Linked DNA regions of Homo sapiens: regions 1, 2, 4 and 5 are each linked to region 3. The links come from fine-mapping of genetic effects on gene expression. A gene starts in region 3. Each other region holds a variant in brackets. All regions are shown on one strand. Distances are from middle to middle. Region 1 overlaps SORL1 (sortilin related receptor 1). Region 2 overlaps SORL1 (sortilin related receptor 1). Region 3 holds the start of SORL1 (sortilin related receptor 1). Region 4 has its middle 58 kb from the start of SORL1. Region 5 has its middle 240 kb from the start of SORL1-AS1.

What was found.
Region 1: its variant is fine-mapped to the expression of SORL1 in whole blood (TOPMed, PIP above 0.99).
Region 2: its variant is fine-mapped to the expression of SORL1 in whole blood (TOPMed, PIP 0.98).
Region 4: its variant is fine-mapped to the expression of SORL1 in whole blood (TOPMed, PIP above 0.99).
Region 5: its variant is fine-mapped to the expression of SORL1 in whole blood (INTERVAL, PIP 0.99).

The regions. Positions count from the first base shown.
Region 1 is chr11:121,608,540-121,613,645 of GRCh38, reverse strand. It overlaps SORL1 (sortilin related receptor 1), which reads right to left. Exons shown (of 48, transcript NM_003105.6): 39 at 2,488-2,570; 40 at 814-910. Among named protein-coding and RNA genes, the nearest start is that of SORL1-AS1, 160 kb to the right of the region's middle. The variant C/T (reference allele first, on the strand shown) is at 2,103.
Region 2 is chr11:121,629,886-121,634,991 of GRCh38, reverse strand. It overlaps SORL1 (sortilin related receptor 1), which reads right to left. Exons shown (of 48, transcript NM_003105.6): 48 at 1,229-5,106. Among named protein-coding and RNA genes, the nearest start is that of SORL1-AS1, 180 kb to the right of the region's middle. The variant C/T (reference allele first, on the strand shown) is at 2,639.
Region 3 is chr11:121,449,706-121,454,811 of GRCh38, reverse strand. It overlaps SORL1 (sortilin related receptor 1), which reads right to left and starts at 2,498. Exons shown (of 48, transcript NM_003105.6): 1 at 2,196-2,498. The coding sequence starts at 2,480. It overlaps SORL1-AS1 (SORL1 antisense RNA 1), which reads left to right and starts at 1,845. Exons shown (of 3, transcript NR_183636.1): 1 at 1,845-2,137; 2 at 4,913-5,106. RefSeq lists silencers at 488-537, 2,382-2,431, 2,562-2,611 and enhancers at 1,662-1,711, 1,732-1,801, 1,842-1,891, 1,902-2,091, 3,482-3,541.
Region 4 is chr11:121,391,664-121,396,769 of GRCh38, reverse strand. No RefSeq gene overlaps it. Among named protein-coding and RNA genes, the nearest start is that of SORL1, 58 kb to the left of the region's middle. The variant A/G (reference allele first, on the strand shown) is at 2,710.
Region 5 is chr11:121,694,840-121,699,945 of GRCh38, reverse strand. No RefSeq gene overlaps it. Among named protein-coding and RNA genes, the nearest start is that of SORL1-AS1, 240 kb to the right of the region's middle. The variant ACACT/T (reference allele first, on the strand shown) is at 2,648.

The DNA.
Region 1 (5,106 bases), 160 kb before region 3:
TAGAATGCCTGTGTAAATGCCTGTACATGGTAGGTGCTCAATGTGCAAAAGTCAAAATAACAGCCTCCTCGGGCACCTTGTAGACTTTCAGTTAAAAAAAAAAAGTAACAATAGAACATTTGTAGTCTCTACTTTATAAGGCTATGACAAGGACTCAATAAAAACATGACTGAAAGTGCTTCACAGCCTAGAAGGAGGAGACAGGAAGAAGCTCCCAAGTCATTCTCAACAGTTACAGGCAGCTTTCGCCACTTAGAAATAAATTAAAATCCATCCTTTAGCACGTGCTTAGATAGAGGAATTTTAGCTGAGACTTGCTGCTGGTACATACGTAACAGGGACTGGACCACTCCTCCCTTAGTTTGTTGTCCATTTCTCCAGTCAACATGTATTTACTGAACACCAGTTATGCATAAGGCCTTCTGCTGTCTCTCATTAGCAACGGGAGAGTGAACCAGACTAGAAAGGACAGACAGGTAACTGTCTATATCTAAGAACTCTTTCTTTTGGAAATCAAAACTCATCTGCAGAGAATTAGTCTTGCCTCTGTCCAATTTTCCTCCTTATGGCCCCCAACTTCCACTAAGGGTCATGAGGTTGGAGGAGGGCTCGAGGGGCCACTGAGTGAATCCCTCTGCCTAGAATCAGCAGCACACTTATAGGATCCTCAATGCACAAGAACCTGTCAACACAGAACAGCTTCCAGAGAATACCTCCCCTTCCCTGGCACCCCCAGTCAAGCTCTACAGCGGGAAAGCATTGGTCCAGCCTTACCCCTTCCTGCACACACACTGACCAGCACCAAAGTGTTACCTTTGTGTGACAATATGCTTCCTCGGAAGTTCAAAGTTCTCCTCTCTTGCTTGTGGGTGTCAAATGCCCAGAAAAGGTTCACCACATAGCCATTCACCTGCCGAGAACCAAGAAGCATGTTAGATGAACAGCTAGTCATGGGGCACACTAAATACAAAAGGCAGGATTAAAAATACACCTCTTTCCTGTTCTTTCCTTGGGTATCTCATTCTTACAGTGAACAGGTTGTTTTTTAAAAATTTTAAACAGGTTCTACTTGTGCTACCATTAGCTAATATTTAGTTGTACTCCACCTACTTCTAAAAACAAACGAGACCATATTTAATTTATAGATTCAATGAAACAAAAAAGTGAATGAAGAATAAAAGGACGAGAACCAATTAATAAAGGTAGAAAGAGGAAACACTGGAAAGATAATTAGGCCATGGAAATTAAGGATAAATCCTTGCAGTCAAGGCCAAGAAGACAATCCATACAAAACAGGCTGGTTAGATCTCATTGTCTAACTACAGAAAATACATCCACCCATCAGGAAAGACTACCTTTTCCAAGTCCTGAGCTCATAAAAAGATTTGATCTGAAGATCGTTAAATATGGGACAACGAACAAAAATATTTTCAAGATCAAAGACTACAAGACAAGAAGCATATAAGCCCACTTCTTTTTTCTTTCTTTTCTTTTTTTCTTTTTTTTGAGACAGAGTCTCACTCTGTTGCCCAGGCTGGACTGCAGTGGCATGATCTTGACTCACTGTAGCCTCTGCGTCCCAGGTTCAAGCGATTCTCCTGCCCCAGCCTCCAAGTAGCTGGGATTACAGGCATGCACCACCACACCTGGCTAATTTTTGTATTTTTAGTAGAGACGGGGTTTCACCATGTTGGCCAGGCTGGTCTCGAACTCCCGACCTCAGGTGATCCACCCATCTCAGCCTCCCAAAGTGCTGGGATTACAGGCGTGAGCCACCATGCCCGGCCGAGGCCATTTCTTATATCAACCCATTCTGAAGCCAAGGTCATGACACTAAATGGCAGTTAAGTAAATGGCAGAAAGACTCTGAAGGTTGCTTGTCCCAACTTGTCCCAACACAAATTCATCAATGGAGAGGCTGTGAGGAGGGACAGATAAGAAGGAACACTATGGAAAGCGGATCTCAGCTTGAGGAACCACATGGGCACAGGTAACAATGATGAAGTCGGCTATGCAGAGGGCCAGTAGAGGGGATGGCGGTGCTGGAAGAGGAAGATCTTAGGTGGATGGAAAGTGAATATGTTTCCAAGGTATCCAACTCT[C/T]CCACAAGAAGGTTGTTCTTCCACTGTGAGCGCCTCAGCATTAGCGCTTAGCACCAGGAAATCCAATAAAGCTGAAAATTACAGGGCATACATATTCTGTTAACACCAACTCTTTATTTGCACTGTAGCTGTGAACCATTTAATTATATGGTTAAGGATAAAAAGGCACCAGGCTGAGGCAGAATAATTACATGTGAAGACTCAAGTTGTTCTTCATGGGGGAAGGAACCACCCTAGTCCTGGTATTTTAGCTTCACTAGATCTAGCCGTTCGTTTTTTTTGTTTTTTGTTTTTTGTTTTTTTCCAGTCTTACTGTGCTATGTCCTTTCAGTTCCCATACAAAATAAAGCCCCATCCAGCTGCTGGCTTGAAATTCCCACATTACCTTGATATCACTCTCCATGGTCAGGGTGAAGCTTAGATAATTTTCACCATAGCTGTCAATGTGGATATCTGGTGGTGGGATCACTGAAAACAAAAAGGAATTCAAAAACAGAAGCCACGTGATGAAAAGTGAGGAAGGCAGGACTTAATAGTTTTCAACTCAACGGACAAAGCCATCTTTCAGTCGGGGAAGAAAGGGTATTTCTTTGGCAGTGTTCCTCATCGATCTTTTTTTACCACTGTTTTCCTGAAGCTAAGGTTGGTCCACAGTTGCTTGGTGAACACAAAACTATCTTGGCTCAGTCGGCTATCCTGGCAATTAGGTCAGGCAGAAAAGTTCCATTTTGTAAAGGTCCCAAAACAGCCCAGCTTCAGCCTGGTTCTTAAAGGAACAGGGATCATTCACTGCGAGTGGCATCTTGATTGGCACTAACAAAGTCCCACCAATCTCAAGTCCTTTCGGAAGGCTGACAATGGAGTAAATCGTAAATGGTAAACGTGCGTGTGGCAAAATGGAAAGAATGTGGCCTCTGGAAGCTGGCAAACTTGAGTTCGAATTCCTGTTCTGGCATCTGTGTAACCTAGGCAAGTTACTGATCTTCCTGGAGCCTAGAGATGTTATCTGCATTTCACAGAGCTGGGAAGGTTAACTAAAATAATGTATGTGTGATGCCTAGCACTCAACTGATACTCTCTTTCTCTTCCTTTCCAATATAGCGTCACATATGGCCAACTAAACAACTAGAAACCACTGGTGCTCTCAAAAAGACTGGAGCTCAAGCTAAGAGTCGAGGGGGCAAGGAGAAGTGGCCAAGGAAAAGACCCCTCTCAGTTCAACCAATGAGCGCCATGCTTGTCATCTGGAAGGTCTTCCCACCAGATGGCTGACAGTGCTTGGCCCAGCATGATCTAAAAGAGCTCAATGGATCAATATTATCAGAAAATATTATTTAAACAACAACTTGCATATTAGACTCTCCACACATATGCCCCTTCTATAGACTGGGCAAGAGAGACTCAAAGGAGCAGATAAGATTTGGTGGCAAAAGAGATGTGTCAAAGTCTGAAGAGGTCTGTCCAGATGATCAATCATGTAATAAAACTAGGCTTCAGGAAAATGCAATAACCGGAAGAAGAAAGGATATTGGAAGCTTCAGGCGGCCAACACAGAGCAAAACAGTGCGAGTGCTGCATATGGTAAAGCTGACTTGAATTATAATCATGGCAACCAGGGACAAGTCACAATCCACTCCAAACCCATTTCCTCAGCTACACAATGAGGATAAGGATACTTATCTCATAGGATTCATAAGGATTAATAAGGGATCCATTCACGAGCAACAATAGCATGGTGCTTAGTGTATAAGAAGTGCTCAGGGAATGGTGGCTTTTCTCATTGTCATTACTAATCCACTACATTCACCAATTAACCTGGCGCGTCTGGCTGATGCCTCTGCTGTCTTTGTCCTTTATCTTAAAACGTTATTATGATACTATGTCACAGATATTTTACAACAAACACTTTTTGGATGTGGCACACAGCTGCCTTCTGTACAAATCCTAGCCCAAATATATGCAAGCAGCTGAGATTCATCAAAATCACAGAAAAGAAGTTAAAGAGAACCAACCATCCACTGAGATTTTCAAATGCAGTTGTGACTTGTGCCTTCGGAATTCAAGGTACATGTATTTGGTTGCTCTTCCAACATCCCTTCTTGGTATGTGTGGTCAGTGTTTTGAAACAGACTTTGTAGAGAGAAGAGATACAACAATAAAAATTCTAGGAGAGTGTGAATTCAGCAGGCTTTCTCTAATACCTGCAAGCATTCAGCTCCAAAGACCATCTGGTGGCACTACGTTTGGCCGCCTTGGGCCCTGATCTCAAAGGCTCCAGATTTTAGAGGGGACTAGATAGTGACTCTCCATGACCCAGAGCCTATTCCTCACAGGCTTAGGTTAAAGTAAAATCTTCCAGTCCTATTGCATGCCACAGTGTCCATCTGGTTTTAATACCTGGAAGTCCAGAAATGCAAGTCCCCAGTGTCAAGGCTAAGGTCAGGAAAACCACTCTGGAAAATGAGTTGTAGTCCATCTCCCAAAGTATGCCAGAACCCTTCATTTAACTGCTTCGATTCACTCAATCATCAATTATTTCCTTAGTCTCTACTAGATGCCCGTGATAGAGTAGAGAAAAACAGACCAGATCTCTGCCCTCATGAGGCACTCGTGCAAGATGCTGAGCCCGCCACCCCCGGCAAGCAGGGCGGTCCAGTAGGCCGCATGTGTCTCAGCCCAGAGAGAAGCGTGGAGCACAGTGGTTAAGAGCACAGGCTTTGGAGTCAGGCAGATCAGGTTCCAGGGCCAGCTCTGTCACTTACTGATTGTGTGGCCTGGGACAAGTGACATAACCTCATTCCAGTTCCTTATCCTTTCTTGTAGTTGTTCTGACTGTTCAATTAGATGAGCTGATGTACGCAAAGCAGTGAACACTCTAGAGTGTCCTGCCCTTGGCAAGCCATCAGTTATTACTAATATCAGCTCTAGTACAAGATAAAAAACCACCTACACACAGTTTGCCAGTGCCACTGGGAGAATAACAAGAGTCAGCATGGTGCTTTCT
Region 2 (5,106 bases), 180 kb before region 3:
CCACAGTGCATGGACTTAAAGTATTAGATCCTATTGGCAAGATCTTTTTAACTAGAAATGGATCCAGGGTGTTGCAATCTGACGGCTTCAAATACTAAGTTTATATGGAGTAGATTATTCCTGTTGTGGAGTGTCAAGTCTTTGTTCATTCATTCAGTATTTATTGGGCAACCACTATGCTAACCCAGATCCCTCCTACTTTTAAAACTCTTTGCCCCTGCTCTCCAAGCAACCTTCTGGTGGTGACTGGCTCCTGGGGTAGATCTCCCTACAGGGAGAGAATGCACTGGTCATGCAGACATTGTAAGGGACAGGACACTTTCCCAGGGTGAATTAACAAATGGACATTATGACGTTGCATATCAACATCCTGAGTTTGGTTAAGGTGTGTTTGGCCATGAGAGATGAATTCACTATCATGTGTTGACAAAAATTATCTAAGCCTGAAAACCTAAGGATGAGGCCATGACCAAGGAGGCTCACCCAGGTGGTAGGTCTCCCCTTGGGATTTCGCTTGGTGCAATGTGTTGGACTAATGTGTTCTTTGTGATACTGAATGGTGACATGAGGCGCTGTGGCGTCGTGATTCAGAAGAGGATCTGGGATCAGAAACACCTGGGATGGGAGGCTGGTTTTGCCTTTTATGCTCTGGTTTCTCCTAAATTACTTCACTTTTCTATGCCTCCTTTTCTTCATTCACAAAACCAGATGATAATACTTCAGGGTTTGGCTCTGGCTCAGTGTCTAAACAAAAGCAGCATACCAGAAGACCTGTTAAATTCTTAAAAACCTGCCTCCCTCCCCCACCCAGTTCCACAGCCTCCAATCCTGACTTACAGGCCCATGGCCATTCAGCTGCCCATAATAGGTACACGCAGCACTCCTCACAAGACTGTCTATGGAAACCCATAGAAGTGCTCTTAGACACACAGCTCATCTATACTGCTGTGCTTCCGTCTCTTAGATTTGAAAATTGCCTTCTTAGCAAACTGTCTCTTAGCAAATGTAGTTACAAATTTAAGGGAGCCACTTTAGTCATTGTCCCTACGGAATAATTCTGTTTACTTCAAAACAGCCAGCACATCTTCCCCCTCCTCAACCAACACAAAGACATCGTGTTCTTCAAGGATCCACCATCTGAGACCAGCTTGTTAATAACAAAATTATTCCAGGCCTTGGTGTTCTCTCATCTATGAAATAAACATCCGTTTAAAACAGACCAATCAAATGGGGTTTGGAGACTGCGTCAGCCATCTTTATTGCGCTCTAAAGAACAGCTCGAGACACACAGAGACAGTGGATTTTCAAAGAGGTGTTTTCTTGACCCAGTTAAATTTTTATTCAGTGAAAAAAGTTGACATTGAGACAAAAATTATCTTAAAGTTGTGCAACAATACAGTAAAACCTTCAGCAGATTTCAGTGACTTGGAAACTTATCGAGGCAATTGAAATTATAAATACTTAATTTCGCTTTGGAGAGAAACAAGTATACAGTGTTTCACTTTAAATAAGAGTAGAATAGGCCTTTATTTTGCCGCAAATACTTTTGATTTTGCCTAAAGTTTCTAATAGTTCATAACAAGAGTCTTTAAATGAGAAGTGACATAGAATATTTGAGGATAATGGTCCACTCCAGCATTCATGCTTATTCCATTTGAGCTATTACACATGAAACTCATACCATTCTTGGGTTATTACTTGGCTGTGACGATTTAATTCATAATATGGCTGCTCAAAATTAGTGGGCAGAAACATACATACAACCCATCCTCCCTCAACCCATTTTCGGTGCTGGTACTCCATCTGAAAACACACTTACTGTCCATGTACCCAGCAGTACATATCTCTTCCTATCTATTCCATATCTCAGTCTTGCATAGAAAGTAGTCTATATAAACTTAATGCACTGGCTTTTATTACACAAAAATTGTACCTGAAAGGCAGCACACACTCCAGTTAAGAAAAATAACACAACAGGAATGTCAAGATACAATCCCAACACAAGATTCTGCACAGAGTTTTAGAGTCAATTCCTAAAATCAATATGGGATGATATTCAGTTTAGTTATGTCTCTGGATGCCTTCTCTAAGGGACTCATCCAACTGTCTGCAGAAGGAAGAAAATTTTCAGGAATTCCCCATGACTCCCTTCATGAAGAAGGGACTGACCAAACCTGATAGGATGGTGTTTCTGCCCTAAGGAAGTGTACTGGAAATATAATCTTACTAGATGCAGTGACCACTTGGTAAGCATCTGAAGGCAGCATTCGCCAAGAAGGAGTAGGCGCTCATCTCTAAGGGGCTCACCATACTATTGCTCTCCCAAGCTTCCCCTGAAAATGGCCAGTTCTGAGAAGGGTTACATTCCCTAAATTGCTGAGTACAGCTTCATCTAGTGGGCCAAACATGATGGGCAGGAGAGAACAGGCAGCTGTGTGTCTTCTGTCTGTCCCACCCAAATATCCCTGGTGATGCTACCAAAGACAGAACCCCAGGAATTACTTGTCCAAAAGTCAGAGTTTCAACCAGTTACCCAGAATGATAACTATTTACCCAGCTTGTCAAGGTAGCCAGTAGTTCCTGGAGCTTCTCACCTGTCTGGAACTAGGACTGCACAGACATGGCCTCTTCCTGGAAT[C/T]CTCTGTAGAACTCCACTCTCTAACATTTTATCCATGTGGACTCGTATCTCATAAAGCTCAAGGGGCATTCAATACATCCAGGAGTAAAATCGGTTTCCAGAGAAAACTCATAAGCAAACCCCCTGCCCACCAATTTTTAGAGGCCCATCGTGGTCCACATGGATGCAAGCATCTGACATTCTAATGTATGCCAGGAGAGAATAAAACCTTTTTCCTGCACAGTGTGAACTTCTGAGGTGGCATCTCCAACAAGGTACAAAAGCCCCTTCTTCACAAGCAAGCAGGGACTCCGATTGGTCACAGTGAAGACAGTTATGTGGTCACCTTCAGAGGCTGCCTGTAGTACAAGGCATTTGTTTTCATTTTCTATTGGCACTCCAACCTCTGGATTCTTTCAGACAGCATATATACATGAAATCCCCACAAAGCTACACAGAGGGAAACAGGAGTGTGTGCTTCAAAAGTTCATAAAAATATACAATTTACATATAGCTGCAGCTATCTAGCTTAGTCTTCAGGAACTTAGCTCTTCTGTTTATATAAAATACTCTAGCCCTAAAAGGCTGCTTTTTTTCAAACAGCACAGTGGCATTTTCCAAGGAGAGGGGTGATGGCCAGTCTACAGTACTGTGCACTAAGCATTGGGAGGCACTGGTAGCTAGAACCGGATGCTCGGAAATATCTCAAGCTGCCAACTGGAGACATATGCTCTGTAAAAAGGCTTGCCTATGGAATAACTGAAAATAACATCTCAGAGCCTTTTATATCAGCTTTTACAAATGCCACCAAAAAGTTGGCAGAAAAAGAAAAGAAAATACACTTCCTAGTGGTTCAATTAAATGACTTGCCTCCCACCAGGTTGTTAATGATTCAACTATTTAAAGAGCTTATTAAAGGGGAGGTGGTAGGGCTTAGAGTTTTGAACAAATCTCTACGGTAAGACAAGATAAAGCCAAAAAAAATTCCAGTCTTTAAAAAAAAAAACTTAGGAAAGTGACAGGAAAGAAGAGAAAATACGCTAGAAGAAGGCTTATCATTACCACCAGTTGTTAACATGAAATACAGTCCTACCCGTATGGCAAACTAAAGGTCGACAGCTTAAAATACTCATCTAAGTATACATATAAATAAAAATTTCAAAAACTAAAAAATTTAATTGGCTCTTTCTTTGTTTTCTAAACAATCCCTAAGTAGAATGAAACTATATTATCACCCAAGAATGATACTTGTGGTTAAAAGAAACTAAACACTTGTGAGAAGGTGATGCCTCGCACCTAAGCGGGGATGGGGTTTTACAAAGCTTGCACGTCAAGGACACATATTCAGAGACATGACTTTGGAATATTCCCAGACCTCACTGCTTCTTGGCTGAAAGGAAATTCTTCAGTGAGAATCATACAGCACAAGTCACAACGATGCTCGACATTGGTGCCCACAACACTAAGCCTAAATAAAGGGCTTGCATCAGCCCACGATGGATTCTACATAAGTATCAAGTGGCCATGGTTTGAATACACGGGTGGCATTTTAAAGGCAGAAGAAAAAAAGCACAGCTTGTTTTACAGAGAGAATAAATGAACAAACTCTAGTGCTCCTGCTGTTGTTAACTGGATTGAGTAGTCTCAACTTTTTAGATCTTCTCTATCTCTATGAGAATGTACAGCACTGTCTCTTTAGATTGGGTGGGGGCATGGGTGAGGGAGATGGAAGAAGAGGAGAAAAAAAAAGAGAAGGCACTGTCCAATTCAAAATGACTGCATATATCAGTATGGATTTTTAAGGACAATAAGTGGCCATCTCAAACCAAATACATAATTTTACATCTGAGATCCTTCAGTAGTAAGTAAAAACAAAAAATGGAAAATGGAAAAATTATGTACTCTATTAGCCAGTGTATGGATCATGGCACAGATCTAGAACTCTCCCCCACAACCAGGGTAAGTTTTTGCAATGACAATGAAACCAGTGTGTAATAAAGCAGTGTTATCATTTTGTAGCTCTCAAAGCTACATCTTGTACAGAGGCACATACAGTAAAATTCCATCAATTAATATAAGAGAGGAAGCTGTGGGCTTACAGGGCTTCCCAAGCTGCAGCTCTGTTGAACTGAACTCCAGCAATGACTCAGTGCTCTCTCCTGCCAAAGACCATTACATGACACACAAGTGAATAAAAATGGATTGCTTCCGGAATGGCAAAAAAATATGCTTCTCTTCCCACCCCCAACCCTATGGGTAAGGGGCTCATAACACATGTGGTGTCTAATGACCACTAAAGCCTGGCCTTACACAGAGTCCCAATAAATTAACAAAATAACATAAAGAAACCTTCCGCCATAATACATCCACACACTTTCCTATAAACTATATCCAAACAAAATGGAATATCTGTACACACTTTCAAGGAGAAGGGGTTCCACCCATCACTCTCTCGAGGTTTTTATTAAATACATTTCTGTGTCTTAGAA
Region 3 (5,106 bases):
CAAGAGGGGCACCTCAAACCCCTTCAGTCACCAACCTGTGCTTGCATTCTGAAGGGTCTGCACCAGATAGAACTTGTGGCAGAAAGCCCAGTACAGGGAAGTTCTTCCTTTTATCTGACTCAAATCCTTACAGATTCAAATTAATTCCACTTCTTATTAACCTCAGAGCAAGAGGCAACAATGGCATAGGAAGGCAGCCACAGAGAAGAAAAATCTCACCCTTGTACCCTCACCCTCCGGTTAGGAATTCCTCATTATGAGTTTGACTGCTAGTTCTCCATCCTTCAGCTGAACCAAACTCAATCTGGCTGGCCCAGAAACTCAAAAGCCCAGGGTTTGGGAGTCACTCCCAGTGAGAACAGAGTTCATGTCCAACCTGCCCCACATCCCCTGGAGCTTTTCATAAACCAAACCCAAGAAAGAAATGGCACATGTACACATATTTTTGAAACCAGAAAACTTTTTCCTCAACCTAAACTATAGCTTCAGGGGACCTGAGCACTGGGAGGGATTGTCTCCCACCAGCCCCCAACTCCCAGTTCCCAGAATGCTGATTCAAGAGCACAGCAGAGCTGGGCTGACTGCGGAGGCCCAATGAAGAAGTGGGCCACTCCTCCTCCTTCTCCCACCCTCCATCAGCCCCATGCTGGTGTCGCTGTTAAGAGCAAGGACCTTGATGACTTCTTTTTGTTCATACACATATTTGTCATATGGGGTGGGGACAGGGGGACAAGGATCTGGGCCCAAGAGGAACTGAGCATGCAGGTTCCTGCAGCCTGTGGCCACCATTAGTTACATGCCCTGGGGCACACATTCTTGCCCAGGGACCAATAGTGGAGGGAAATCCAACGCTCCCACCCAGTCACCACCATCCTTTCCCCCTTTATACCAGATCTATTTTATTTTAGAAAGGAGGTATTTCAGCAGCATTGCATAAAGACAGGGTGACTGCAGTCAAGCAAAGGTCACTGAGACAATGCAGACAAAAACTAGAGAGCAGGCCACCTTCCCGGTATGACCTTGGACTAGTCACTTCACCATTCCACGCTTCAGTTTCTTCACCAACAAAATGACACAATAGGGTGATATGTTTACAAGGTTCGTCCTGGATCCAAGGGTTGAACATTTAACTCTGTATTTCCTGAAGAAATGGCTAAAGTGAAATTAGTGAGAAAAGGCAGAACTCAGGGTAATCTTTTATTAATAATTTCTACTTCAAAAGGAACAATTTGACTCTAGAAAACAAGTGTATTTACCCCCTCCTCTGGTCCTACTTTTTCTCCCCCACCGACCTTATACTTTTGCTGATGTCAATCTTAACTGCAGGACTGGGAGTCTCATGAGGCAATAACACGGTCAAATTAATTTTGCCAGTGCTGATCCTAACCTACAAACTCCATCTGCAATTCCTCGCAGTAAGTCTGACCATAAAAGTGAAATTCACGTTACTTATGATCTAATAAACCTATTGCCTGGGTAGAAATAAATCACTTATAGAATAATAATGCCCACCAAATTTCCTGCAGTCCTTTCAAATCTCCAAGTGCCATGAGGGGTATTCCTCTCCAAAATAAAGTTATCTTGACGGGGGTGGGAGAGTCAGCATCTTGAAGGGTGGGGAAGAAGGAATGGAGAGCATCTCACACGCTCGCCAAAAATTAAAAATTAAAAATTCAGCCTTTACACACGCACACACATACACACACCTCTTGTCTGACTGTACAGAGATAGTCGACAAGCTTTCAGGTTTGCCCACTTTTATTGTGCTAATAATGCTAAGTGTGGAAACCCCCACCTCGTGCTGTTCTGTGTAAGTGTACCGCAACTGCAGGGTGCTCGCCTCCACTGCCAACTGATGATACACTAAAGAAAGCCCGTTTTTTATCCAGATGTAAAATGAAGCTGCACCCCTCCTATACCTGCCGGAAACTACATCTCTCTGCACACACCCTGGGGTAATACGCACTGCACCCGGCGAGTTACCTGGAATACGTTTACTAAATCGACAGGAAGAAGGAAAGATCAATGCGATTCAAGTGCTGACGGTTGTACTCGTGAAGGAAAAAAACAAATGCAAGCCGGGAAGTCCCCAGTGGTGCCTGCACCTAGGAGGCGACTGCAACGGATGGATGCGGGGGTGAGGAAGTGCAGGGAGAGGAAAAAACTGGAGGGAGGCGGGTTGCAAAACTGCTCACCTGTCCGTACACCTTGATGGGCTCGGGCTGCAGGGCAGCGCTCCGTTTCCTCCGGAGCGGCTTCTCGTCCGCGCGGCTCGCCCCCCTGGCATCCCCGCGCGCCCACAGCCGCAGCTCGCGCGGGTCGCCCTGCACCACGAGGAAGCCCCGGTCCTGGGGCAAGGGCGCGCTGCCGCCGTGCAGCCTCTGCGTCCAGACTTCGCAGAGAGCTCCGGGCGGCAGCAGTGCGACCAGGGTGAATAGGAACGGGAGTCGCGACTCCCTCCTGCTGCTCCGTGTCGCCATGTTCGGGCGAACGCTACTGCAGGTGGCGCCGCCGCCAGGAGAGAATGTGCAGCGCGAGGCCAGGAGAGCCGCTGGGCCGGGACCGCGCGCGCCGCTCCCGGGGCTCCAGGCCGCCCGCGCCGCTCCGGGCCGCCCCGCTGCGCCCGCCGCCGCTGCCGCCAGGTCCCGCTCGGTTCGGCGCGGCGCCGTCACGTGTGAGGCTCGCAGCGCGTCCCTTTCGCGCACTTTCTGCGCTCGGCGGCCTCGGCGGCGACTCCGGCCCCTCCCTGGCGCGGGGATGGGGAAGTTAAGGCAGCGAGCGCCGGTGGGGGTGCGTCCCTTCCCTGGCGGGCACACCTCCTTGTTCTCCCTGCAGGAATGAAGAGTTGCATGGGGCTCGCTCGTTTTCTCTGGAGTTAGTTGCGTCCTATACAGGGTCGTGTCGAGGTCGTCCTAAACCGTGGCCACTTTCCTGAGTGCACAGCCCGCAGTAGCGCCACAAGACCACCTCCCCCCGGCCCCGGCCTCATCCCCACCTCCAGGGAAGAGTCCAGAGCCACAGAATTAGCTCCTAGAACGCAACCAACAAGAGTCCAGATGAACCCGCTCTATTGGGAAACTCACAGTTTTTCATCTACTCTGGGCACCACAACGTATTTGCAGGGGCCACAGCAAAAACTACCCTTGATCAAGCTACGTGCCCCAGCCTGAAGCACAGCAAATAAACATCCTGCACAGAGGCAGTAAAAACAAGGGTACATCTGACAAAGAATGCACCACACCTGGACAATTATTACACAGCTATACAGGGTGTGCTTGCACGCACGCATGAATACCTGTGCGTGGCACAGGGCCCCAGCGGCGGCTTGCTTATGATCCCTCCAAGGTGACCAAGCACTGAGCCACCCTGCCTCAGCAGTAAAATAGACATATTTACCAGTCCCTTCAACCCACAGCCAGGAGCTAGGCAAACACCCACAGAGGAGGGAGGACACACTTTAACCCTACATTCAGCTTGACGAGCCAAACTCTCTGAACCACAGGAGATAAAACTTCTGCCATGGAACTGCTAAGGTACGCCCAAGGAAAATATTTTTTTTGCAGGTTAGTGGGAGCAGCCAAAGTCTATGTACTACTGCAACCTTTCCTATTTCATTTTATGTTTCACTGCCCTCTGAACTCAGATCCTGGTTTTTGATAAGAATAAAGACACAGCAAGCAGGGCTGAAAGGGAGACTACCTTTATAGTTGCATACAAGCTGCTGTTCAGGGGAAGGAAGGGATGGTCAGTTCAATTTTCTAAAAACATTCCTCATCTCCGACAAGCCACGGTAGCCCGATTCCTACCCCGGCCCACTCTAGTACTTTTCAGGTAGCTTAGCAAAGCCCCCTCCTCTACCTAGGACTACCACTGACAACCTGCCAGAGTCAGGCCAGCTTGCCTCATCTCCCTGAAGCCAGTATTCAACCACCCTACCCTACCCCATGCCAGACTTGCTGGGGACCTCTGCCTCAGGTTCTGCACTCTCCCACCTCCTCCCACACCCGATTTTCTCCCCAAGTCAGATGATGTCTTTCTGTCCATCTCAACATAATTACAGAACCATCCAGTTCTCCCCACCAAGCAAATCATGCATTCTCTATGTTAACCACCCTGCTTTGTTCATTATACATTGTATACAGGTATCAAAATACCACACTTTCCCCAGTGTGGTATTATTGGGGTGCCTTCATCCTGCACCCCAACTTTGATGTTATTTCAGAGGGATTGAGGAAGTGGTAGCTTGTTTACAACCCAGAGCTGGTTTTGAAGCTGAGAGGAACGCCTTGCTCATATTGTGCAATTCAGCTCTAACTCATATATATAACATATATATTTATTATATACTTATATATGTCAATTAAAAATAATAATTCAAACAATCATGCATCCTCCAAGAAAGCCACTGAACCACTGTCACCTCCCACCCCTCATCTAGATCAGCTCTGTCTGGTCAGCATCACCTTACCAGGAATGGACAACCCCATGGTCTCTCAGGACCAGCAGCAAAGATATCTCTACTCCCATTTAGCCCTCAAAGGAAAATGAAGGGAATATGGCTAAAGTGAGAACATCCTGTAGATGATTCAATTATTGGGGTTTTTCCAACATATATTTAATGAGAACCTTCTCTGCAAGAGCAAGTGTCAGAGTCCCAGCAGAAAACAGAGACAGGAGTCTCCTAAGTGTGGATTTGAAGATGGGCATCTGTTTGCCCACACAAACTGCTGGCTTAAGGTTCAGATGGCCCCTTGCACAGAAGGACTAGTAGGGCAGGGCCAGCTACTTGCTCATTTTGATGTTGATTTGCAACTTGAATGCTAGAGAATTGGTAAGAATATTCAAACATGGTTAATTAACTCCTTGCAAGCCCTCCTATCTAATCATTATCTACATTCCAAACCATTCTCAGGTAGATAATCAGCAACCCCCCAAGACTGTGCCTGCTGCACAACTACAGAACGCAGTGGAAGACACGCTGAATTCTGAGTCAGAAGGTTGACTTTCTAGCTGTGGGGACTTGGCCAAACCTCCTCAGAGCTTCAGTTTTCTCATCTGTAAAATAGAGATCTTAATCCCTACCAATCTCACAGGACTGCTGAGAGT
Region 4 (5,106 bases), 58 kb after region 3:
ATATTTAAAGAAGTAAGAACATTTTAAAGAACCAAAATAATGATCAACTCTAGGAAAGACAAAAAGTTATACAACAAAGGAAACAATAATAGTGTACTACTCTTTTTAGTTTCCTTAAGAGTATCCTACTTAATACTACTACTGCTAATACTATTAGCTATACTACTTAATTAAAAGTATCCTACTCTTAATTCACTGATAGTGTACCACTAGTATACTACTATTAATGAATAGTAATGAATGTCATTTATACAGCTATAATAGTAAAGTACTGAGTACAAATTAGCAAAAGCTGAGATGAATAATAATGAAAGATGAAATGAGATAAGAGCATGAAATTCTCATCTTCCAAAATAGAAAGACGAATAGATATCTAAAATTGATGCACCAAGATATAATTTGTATAAGCAAATTATTTACAAGTACAGAAATAAACACCAGAAGAAATAGCTTAAAAATGGAAAGTAAGAGGTCTGGGGAGTGGGCTGGGGACAGAAGGCATGCAGGCAGGGGACAGCTGATTTTCCGTCTGTCCTTTTGCTACCATTTCACTTTTTTTTCTCTTTTTGCTATGTGCATTTATTACTTTGTAAAAATAAACATTAATTTAAAAAAGAAATTCAGTTTAGTTTGAGCTGCTCAATAAGCCCCAGTTTAGGAATCTATTAATCACTTTTATGTGTCATTACCTAACATCTTAATACAGGAAGGGGGAGGAAGCCATTTTCTATACAATTTAACACTACCTTTGGTATGGAGTTATCGCTTGTGTCAGGGAGATAAATTTAATCACCCCTTTGGTGTCCTATTGTTATGAAGTGACAAAGTTAATGCAATTTATTCAGCACTCTTGGAAGTTTCATTATTAATCTGTCACTCATGATAAGGCTCTAATTTTGTGAAATGACTTAATTTTTCTTCTTGGTTTTAAAATCATATTTATTCTAGTTTGCCTTAAAAAAAATTCAGGAATTCAAATGAGAAGTTCAGATCGAATTCCCTAAACTGCTTTAGTTCAGGGGGAAATAAAAACTTTCCTTGGTGAGAAAATTTGTCATTTACTTCTCCTAAAAAATTGGCATTTATTTCTACACTTATTTACACCTTTTATTCCTATTTTTTATTTACACTTTTTATTTCTATTTTCTTATTTACACTTTTTATTTACGCTATTTATTTCTCCACTTATTATAAAATTCAGGCGAAAGAATCCTTAATAATCACCCAATACAGACTCTTTATTTGGCACCCAAGTGAACCATTGCAGCAAGGAAGGTTAGAATTACATCAGTATTGTAATGATGCTACAAAGTAACCAGCTCCCTCAATGATCCAATTTTTTAGCTACCCATCCTATTTTGGTGCTTTGGATTTTGGCTCAGGTTGTAAGACAGCCTGAATGCTCTCTTACACCACGTGCTGTGGGTGCCTAGTTAATATTCCCTCATTCCGCAAATATGTACTTGGTTTCTGTCATGCGTACAAGACAGTGGATTGAATGGTAAGCCCAATTCTCCATTTTGAGAAAAAGAACATAGGAGTTTACATGAGACCTGGGACTCTTCACTCCTTTGTTGCCCTGTGCTGGGTATACAAATACTCCACGTGGCCAGGAAAAGATTGAGGTGTTCACAGCAATCTGTACTTGCCCTCCTGCCCCTAAGGAGGAGAGCAATTCTTCAGAAGAACACTGACAATTGTCCCCTAAATGGACTCTCCTTTGTCAAACCAAGGTTACCAGAGTTTGTGTGGGAGGGGTAGGGTTTTGCACAAAGTACCAGACACAGGAAGTTACATGTGTGCCCTTGGGATCTCTGCAGCTGTCTAGGTGTGCATGTAAATGGGCCAGGACCAGCTGCCTGGGGTAAAAGCTCTCCCAAGCATTCCAGTATGGAGTGGTGAAAGGGGGCAAAATGGTTATACGGACAATAATGCATTGGATAATGTGGAAAATTCGAAGTAACTCCTTTTTAGATCACGTTCTTTTTGCTGCTGTTACCACGTTACTAGCGAAGTATTGAGGAAAGAACACACGCTTTGAAACCAGACAAATCTGGGTTCAAATCCCAGCCTCCCACCTTAACCCAAATGACACTGCACAGATTACTGAAGGGCTCTGAGCTGCAGTTTCCCCTTCTGTGAAACAGAGATTCTGTCCACCTCATGTGTTGTATGTAAAGCTTTGAAACACAGCAAGCAGCCAATCAATGGGAGATATTAAGTTGTGTATGTGGAACACCAGCAGGATTCAGTATAAAACTTGTAGACAGGAAAGATGTCATCAAGAACATTTGAGCTTTTTTTTTTTTTTATTGAAGGAGTGATAATTTTTCTAACTCTTGGTGCACTCTCGCTCCTCTACAACTTGCAAACTTAGCCCAGATTTCTGACAGGGGCCTCTGAGTAGCCATTGCCAATCAGAGATCATGTTCCATTTTGTCATCTGTCCCCAGAGTTCTATCAAGTAAACAAGCGAACACCTCCATGAGCTGGGAACCAAGAAGTCTTCCTACCTGTGAACTACTTTTCGATGGTCTCGAAGTGGTATTTATTTGAAACCAGATTGGTGTACAGCATTGTTTGTACCCATCTTTCATGCAGGCTGCCGCCCTGCCCCACCATGGAAGGGAGAAACAATAGCCAGGAGGCAGGCAAAAGACCAAGGACTTCTCAGGCAGGGAGAGAAATGCAGGTGGTTTTGCGGTCAGG[A/G]TCAGAGGGGACACAGGAAGGACTGCAGGACAAAGGAAGTTGCTGTTTAACCACTGCATGAAATGGAAACTGTTTTGAACTTTCCTGAGAATTGGACATGGAAAGAAAAAGAAACCAGACATAAGGGGAGAAGAAACCATAAAGGGAAACTTGAACATAAAGGAAAACTTGTTCAAGTTTTTTGTGTGTGTGTGTGTGGAGATCTCATGCTTATCTAAATTGCGGCAGCTTTCAAGGCCAGTGCAAATGCCCATGCAGCTGGGAAGCCCAAGTTATCCTGAGCTATAATCATTTGGGTAAGGGGGATACTTACTCCCTTTTATCCCTAGCTCAGAGTACACGCGCACATCCTACGCCAGCACCAAGCACAGTTATGGTGGCCCACAAGTGTGCAAGAAGGTCCTGGGGAATTGTGGCCAGAGTGTCTGGAGATGAGTGCTTGAAGCACAGACAGGGCCAGCAGCCCACTCGTGCCTGGTGAATGGCTCTAAAGCCCTAGGTGCTGGAACCCACAGTTTCTGGACAGGCACAGCACACTCATGTATCACCCCCACACCATGCTTCTTCTTGGGGTCTGCTGCCCCTGGCACTTACAGAGCCATGGTTCAACCAGAGTCCAGCTCTCAGGAATAGACACCCTCAGACTCAGGGTCCTTTTTTCCTATCTGCTTCTTGGTTTCCTACCCATTCCCTTTTTTGGCCGCACTCTCAAAAGCCCTTATTCTTCTCATTAACTTTTTTTTGTTTCTTTGTTTTTTTAGCCATAAAAGGGCTTGATGGATCTCTAAATGAGCTTGATGGTTGATGGTGGGCTAGAAAGTTTGTAAATCCTTGGCAACACCCTAATACTTGTTAGCCCCCACAATTCCTAGAAACTCAATCAGATCTCTTGCCAGAGTAAAACAATGTTTCCAATCTTTCTGAATTGTCATCATCCCCTAGGGATGGACAAAGGGACTTTTTTTCTAGAGAAACACAACATAAACAAAATAGAAACAAAACAAGAAAACCCCCACAAACAGATTCCTTTTTTTTTTTTTTTTTTAAGAGATAGGGCATCTCGCTATGTTGCCCAGGCTGGCCTCGAACTCCTGGGCTGGAACAATCCTCCCGTGTAGCTGGAACAACAGGCATGCTCCACCATGCCTGGTCCACAGATAGATCCTTAATAAACGACTGCAAGCTAAGTCTGGTGAGTTACCTTGTATATATCCACATACATTTATATAAATGCTCCTTATCTCTTAGGAGGGCAAGGAAATGCGTCCTCATGTATTCTACCCTTTCTCACATAGCATTGTAACTTACACCTAATAAATGCTTTCTAAATATCTGAATTCCTTCTCGTATCTATATTGACATGTCTTTATATGACATGTTTTCCAGTCCCCTCATCATTTCATTGCTATCCCTGGCATGCTCATCTATGTCTGTAGCCTTCTTCAGATGAGGCCCTTGGAAGAAAATTAAGTATTTCAGCTGTGATTTGACCTGTCCGGAGCATGGATTATAACAGGGCCATAATATTAAAACCTCTCTGTAGAGATTAAAACCAACACATTACTCTGCACCCTTATGGTCACTCAAGCAGTTATAAACCCACCTAATTATTCTTGGCTTTAACTCATCTTTCTCTATCTTGAGCACAAGGATACCTATAAGAGATTTTAATAAACACTGTTGAAGTCCCAAAACATTCTGTCAATTACAGTTCCCTGGTCTTCCCTGAGTAATGTATTAAGCAGGATATAATTCTGTCTACGTATCTTAAACAAGACAGAAGTTTGTCTTTTTATCATGTAAAAGTCCAAGCTGCTATGGTGGCCTTGCTCCAAGAAATCTGCAGGGGCGTAGGCCCTTGTGGCTGGGCCACACCCAGGTACTGGCCTCATCTGCCAAGTCCAAAGGGCTCACTCATTCATGTTTCAGCAAATAGCAGGTACTTTCCTCGAAGAGCAAGACTTAGAAGGACAACACTTCCCTTTGGCTCATATCCATTGCCAGGGCTTGGTCATGTGTTCTAAACGCAGCTGCAAGTGAGGCTGGGAAATTGAGTTTTTATCTTGATAGCCGAAGTAGGCTGAAAAGCGCCCCCCACCCCCAAATGCTCGTGTCCTAAACCCTGGAAGCTGCAAATATGTTACTTTACATGGAAAAGGGACTTTGTAGATGCAATTATATTAAATATTTTCAGATGAGGAGGTTACCCTGGATTGTCTTGATGGACTCAATGTAATCAGGAGCATCCTTCTAAGAGGGAGGCGAGAGATTCAGGTGAGAGAAGACAGAGGATGGAAGCGGAGGGGAGAGAGCAAAAGCCATCTGAAGATGCTATGTTGCCGACTTTGAAGATGGAAGGAGTGGCCACAAGCCAAAGAATGCGGGTGGCCCCTTTGC
Region 5 (5,106 bases), 250 kb before region 3:
TTCCAAGCTGAGCACCAGCATCTTCACAGCTCAAAGTTGGTTCTCTCTTTTGTAAAGGAAAAAAAAAAAAGGAGATGGTTTGAATATTTTGCATCTACAAGCAGCTGTAAATAGAACAGCTCAAGAGTCTCAATCCAAATCTATGCACAAAAAGGCAGGTGAAGAATTGGGAATCTTCCCGGGATGCTGGGTTATGTCGATGAATAATTCAAGTCTAAAAGCTCTTAAAAGGACACAGTTACCTGGTTTTCCAGATAATTAGAGACCCCGACAGAAAAGGTTTTAACCTAATTTAACCAAATAATTAACCAGATCATCCAGAAAAGAGCAAGCTTTTTATTCTGGGTAAATTATCCAGCGTTTCATCATTATTAGGTAACTAACAACCTTCTCCATTACTGCTACGTAGAGTCTACACTGTGGACGGGGCTGAATCAAGCCTGGAGTTAACAGGTGACATGAAGAAAATAAGGAATTATCTAACAAAACCTAGTTGCTCTTTTCAAGTATATAGAGCATGGCTACCTCCACAAAAGCACACTGGAAGTGCCCTGGAAAGCTGAGGCAATTATCTTTAACAAAGCAAAATATCCTACCATTAGGAAAAACTGGATATAGTGGATACCTGATTTTACTGACTTTTTTCACAGGTTGAATTCTTTGAAGAATGTCTTGCTTCAAATGACTGCTTATGTATGAATACTGGGAGACAGAAGTAGATAGACCATTTTTATGGATCTGACGTTATGACTATTACTGCAGCTGGTGAAATCTTCCTATTTTATTAATCAGCTTCTACTTCCCCCAAGATAACTCATTGAGATCCTTGAGGAGTTAACCATTGCTGCTAGTTATAAAACATACCATTTACTAAGTGCCAAACCTATCCCAGGTCTTTAACATATATTACTTCATTTAAAGGCGGAAAAGGCCCTTCAAAGTAAGTTTCTATTATTCCCATTTTGTTGAGGGGGCACTGAGATTTTGAGCGGTAATGGGATCAAGAGAGGCAGTGACAGGCAGATTGACTCCAGAATGAATGCCCTCTGCATGCTGCCCTGAGTCTACCTGTCTAGAGCAGTGCTATATGAACATAAGGCTTCCCTAACTTTCAGCATTGCCTACATCACACATTCAAAATAGTGAATAGAACACTAAAGACAATCATAAAAAAAAGATGGAATACAAAATTTGTCATTACTTTTCACTCTTTAGAGGCAAATACAGATAGGACAACTTGTTGATTTAAAATATGGTGGTCAGAGTCGACCTGGATTGAATTCCTTTTTTTTTTTTTTTTTTTTTTTTTTGAGACACTCCTTCACCCAGGCTGGAGTGCAGTGGTGTGATCTTGGCCCACTGCAACCTCTGCCTCCTGGGTTCAAGTGAATCTCCTGCTTCAGCCTCCCAAGTAGCTGGGATTACAGGCACCTGCCACTACACCCAGCTAATTTTTGTATTTTTAGTAGAGAGGGGGTTTCACCATGTTGGCCAGGCTGGTCTCAACCTCCTGACCTCAGGTGATCTGCCCACCTCTCAAAGTGCTGGGATTACAGGCACGAGCCCTGCTGACCTGGATTGAATTATAAATCTACTATTTCTTAGCTATGTGATCTTGAACTAATTACTCTCTCTAATCTCAGTACTCTCCTTTGTAGAGAGCTGTTGTAAGTATTAGAAGAGTTGGGGTATGCACAATATCTGACGTGCGGTAAATGCTTAATAATTGTGATTATTAAACACGAAGTAGAGCGATCATTCCTAAGAATGCAATGGATGATGTACAGAATTCTTTGCCAATAGGCAATGATCTAGATAATTTAACTGGTGACAGTTAACATTTACATAGCTGGGCACTGTTTAAAGGGCTTTGCCCATGGTAATTTGCTTAATACTTGCAATAACCCTCTGAAATAATCAACTATTATTATGCTGTTTTACAGATGAGGAAGCTCCTTAAACTCTGAAAAATGGAGAGATAAGAAATGGGTCCAAGTTCGCACAGCTAGTAAGTAGCAAAGCTGTGATCTGAACCCGAGAAATCTAGCTCCACAATCCATAATCTTAGCCACTATACTCTACTGCCTCCCCCAACTAAAAAAGAGTGAGATTTTTACTACATTTATACATCATGTCATCACTGTCACCATCATCCTCTCTTCACTGAGTTTTTGGCCACATCTTCCCTTTTTTGCCCAGCATTTAAGCTTCCCCACTCCTTCCATGTAAATGGAAATTCTGACTATGATTTCTTAGGTTTGACTTTTGCCCCCTTGCACTAGTTGAATCAATAACAAAAGACAAAACATAATTCTATATAGCCACAGACCCTAGCCATGGTGTGATTGCTAGAGTATACATATTAACAAGGGAACCTACTTTGCCTCGACAAGAAGCAGTGGAAGAGAGCCAGATGTCCCATTAAAAGTCCTTTCTAACCTAAATGAGTTTGTGACTATGTGTGTTTATACGTGTGAGGATGAAACACACTGTGAACACCGTTTCTCCTAGTGTCTAAGCTGTTATCAGAGAATGAAGCACTTCAGGAGGCTAATTGAGCACTGGAGGCTGTCTATACTGGCAGAGCAGAGGGGAGAGGGAGAGTTGGAGCCCCCCCATACACACACACACACACACACACACACAC[ACACT/T]CAAGAAAAACTGCTCAATTCTCTAGGCAGGCCAATCTCATCTGATAGAATCAAATTAAACTTCATGTTGCCTCTACAGACAAAATACATTTGTTTTCAGATGCCCAGACAAGACTCAGCTTCCCTAGTCTGTGCAATGGTCCTCGCAGGACTTCTGAGTAAACCTCTCATTCTGCGCATTCAGCTCAGACTTAGCTGCCACGATGTTCCGGCATTGTCTTTCCGAGCCATACTCTTCCAGCCCCTGCCATTCTGTTATTTAACAGAGAGCACGCAAAAGAAAAAAAAATTAAGGTGAAAAAGAATCATACTAAAGGTCAATCCCATATTTTGTATAAAGATATTATTTTTTCGTTGTTTATTATTGTTGGCCTGTTTGGATTAATTATAGCACCGTTTTTGTAAGTGGCAGGGGCAATCTGTCACCCAGAATTACACAGCAGGCCACCCAAGCTCCACACTTCCTGTTATCCTGCTGTAAATCAGTGTCACTCGCTGGAGAGCATGCCACACGTACCCACGGCCGGGCTGGCCCCGTCACAATCAATGCAGTGCCCACCACTCCCCTCTTCTCATTCCCGAAAGGGTCCTGAAAGAGGATTTGTCGAGGAATGCCACAGCCTCACAGTGTGCTGACTTTATAAAGAGACGAGGTGAAGTAACACTTTTCTTTTTAATACCCCGTGGTGTCGAACTGAAATTGCAGCCTGCTATTTTCAGAGGCCTCCTTGGTAAGAGAATGTTTTTTATCTGGAGATACAATGACCGTACCCCGTACCCTGCAGTTCCCATGAAGCTGTTGCCAAAGTCCATGAATGCTTGCTTTATGAATTGGTCTTGCAGGTGTTCAGGGGGGTATGTAATCACTAATGAATAGTCGAAAAACACAGAAACTCTCCGCAGCCTCTGGCACCGAGAGCTGCTGGGCTTTATAATTCTGTGAGAAAACACACATGCAACTAAAGCTTTCCCTGGGCTCCAGCGTTGCCTGAGGCCAAATATTCGTCACAGCCCATCCCTAGGCTGGTGGTATGTTCCAGAAGGGATGAGAGCTGTAGTCGCCCTGTGGGCCGGGAAGTTTTTGGCACTTACACAATTTCCCTGCCCTGACGTGGTACATTATTTTAGCCAATGGTACCATCTTTATTTAAGGGCCATTTATGGAATATCCAGCAGGCCAGACCACCTGGATATTTTATGAAGACCTTATGGGCTTAGGCCCAGGTGGGCTGGATGCCCAGGGAAACAAGGCATTGGGAGGTCAAAACCAAATCACCTCAGATAATCTGCACCAATGCTTGGGCAGGAGGGACTAGAGCTATGGAGAGTCAAGAGTAAAGTATTGGCTGGGTGCAGTGGCTCACACCTGTAATCCCAGCACTTTAGGAGGCTGAAGCGGGCAGATCACAAGGTCAGGAGATCGAGACCATCCTGGCTAACACGGTGAAACCGTCTCTACTAAAAATACAAAAAAATTATCCAGGCATGGTAACAGGTGCCTGTAGTCCCAGCTACTAGGGAGGCTGAGGCAGAAGAATGGCATGAACCTGGGAGGCGGAGCTTGCAGAGCCAAGATCATGCCACTGCTCTCCACTGCTTTGGGTGACAGAGCGAGACTCTGTCTCAAAAAAAAAAAAAAAAAAAAAAAAAAGAATAAAGTATTTTTTTCAGCCAGGCATGGTGGCTCACGCCTGGAATCCCAGCACTTTAGGAGGCTGAGGCGGGTGGATCACCTGAGATCAGGAGTTCAAGACCAGCCTTGTCAACACGGTGAAACCCCGTCTCTACTAAAAATACAAAAATTAGCTATGCGCAGTGGCGGGCACCTGTAATCCCAGCTACTCGGGAGGCTGAGGCAGGAGAACTCCTTGAACCCAGGAGGCAGAGGTTGCAGTTAGCCGAGATCGCACCACTGCATTCCAGCCTGGATAACAGAGCGAGGCTCCATCTCAAAAAAAAAAAAAGAATAAAGTATTTTTCTCAAGCAGGCTAGATAAGGGGGCTGTGCATGGGAAAGAAAGGGTCTTGGTATTGGATGCCCACAGGGCAAGAGGCTTTAAATCTAAAGAGAATCTATCATGTCCCCTCCACCCAAGAAAAGTTACCGAGAATCAAGACTTGTAGGAAGAGGATTTTATTAGAGCTAATCGAGCTTGTCCTTCCCAGCCTCAGCCCGGCAGGGAAGCAAAGCTAAAACATTTTAGATGTGGAAGGCAATGCTTGTTATTTTTCTCACTTTCCCTACCTGCCCTCCCTCTCTTTCATGAGCCCTCTCTGAGCTGATAACTGGAAAAATGTAAGAGTGGTAACTGGATCAGCTCTCCAGCCCTTCGAAAGGCTGGAAAAATAAAAATAAAAACTTGTGAGAGATATCCAAATTCTCTGGTACTTTGAATGGGGGTAGTAAGATCTCTTTATCAATACAGGCTCCATCCCCACATTGAAAACACAACAT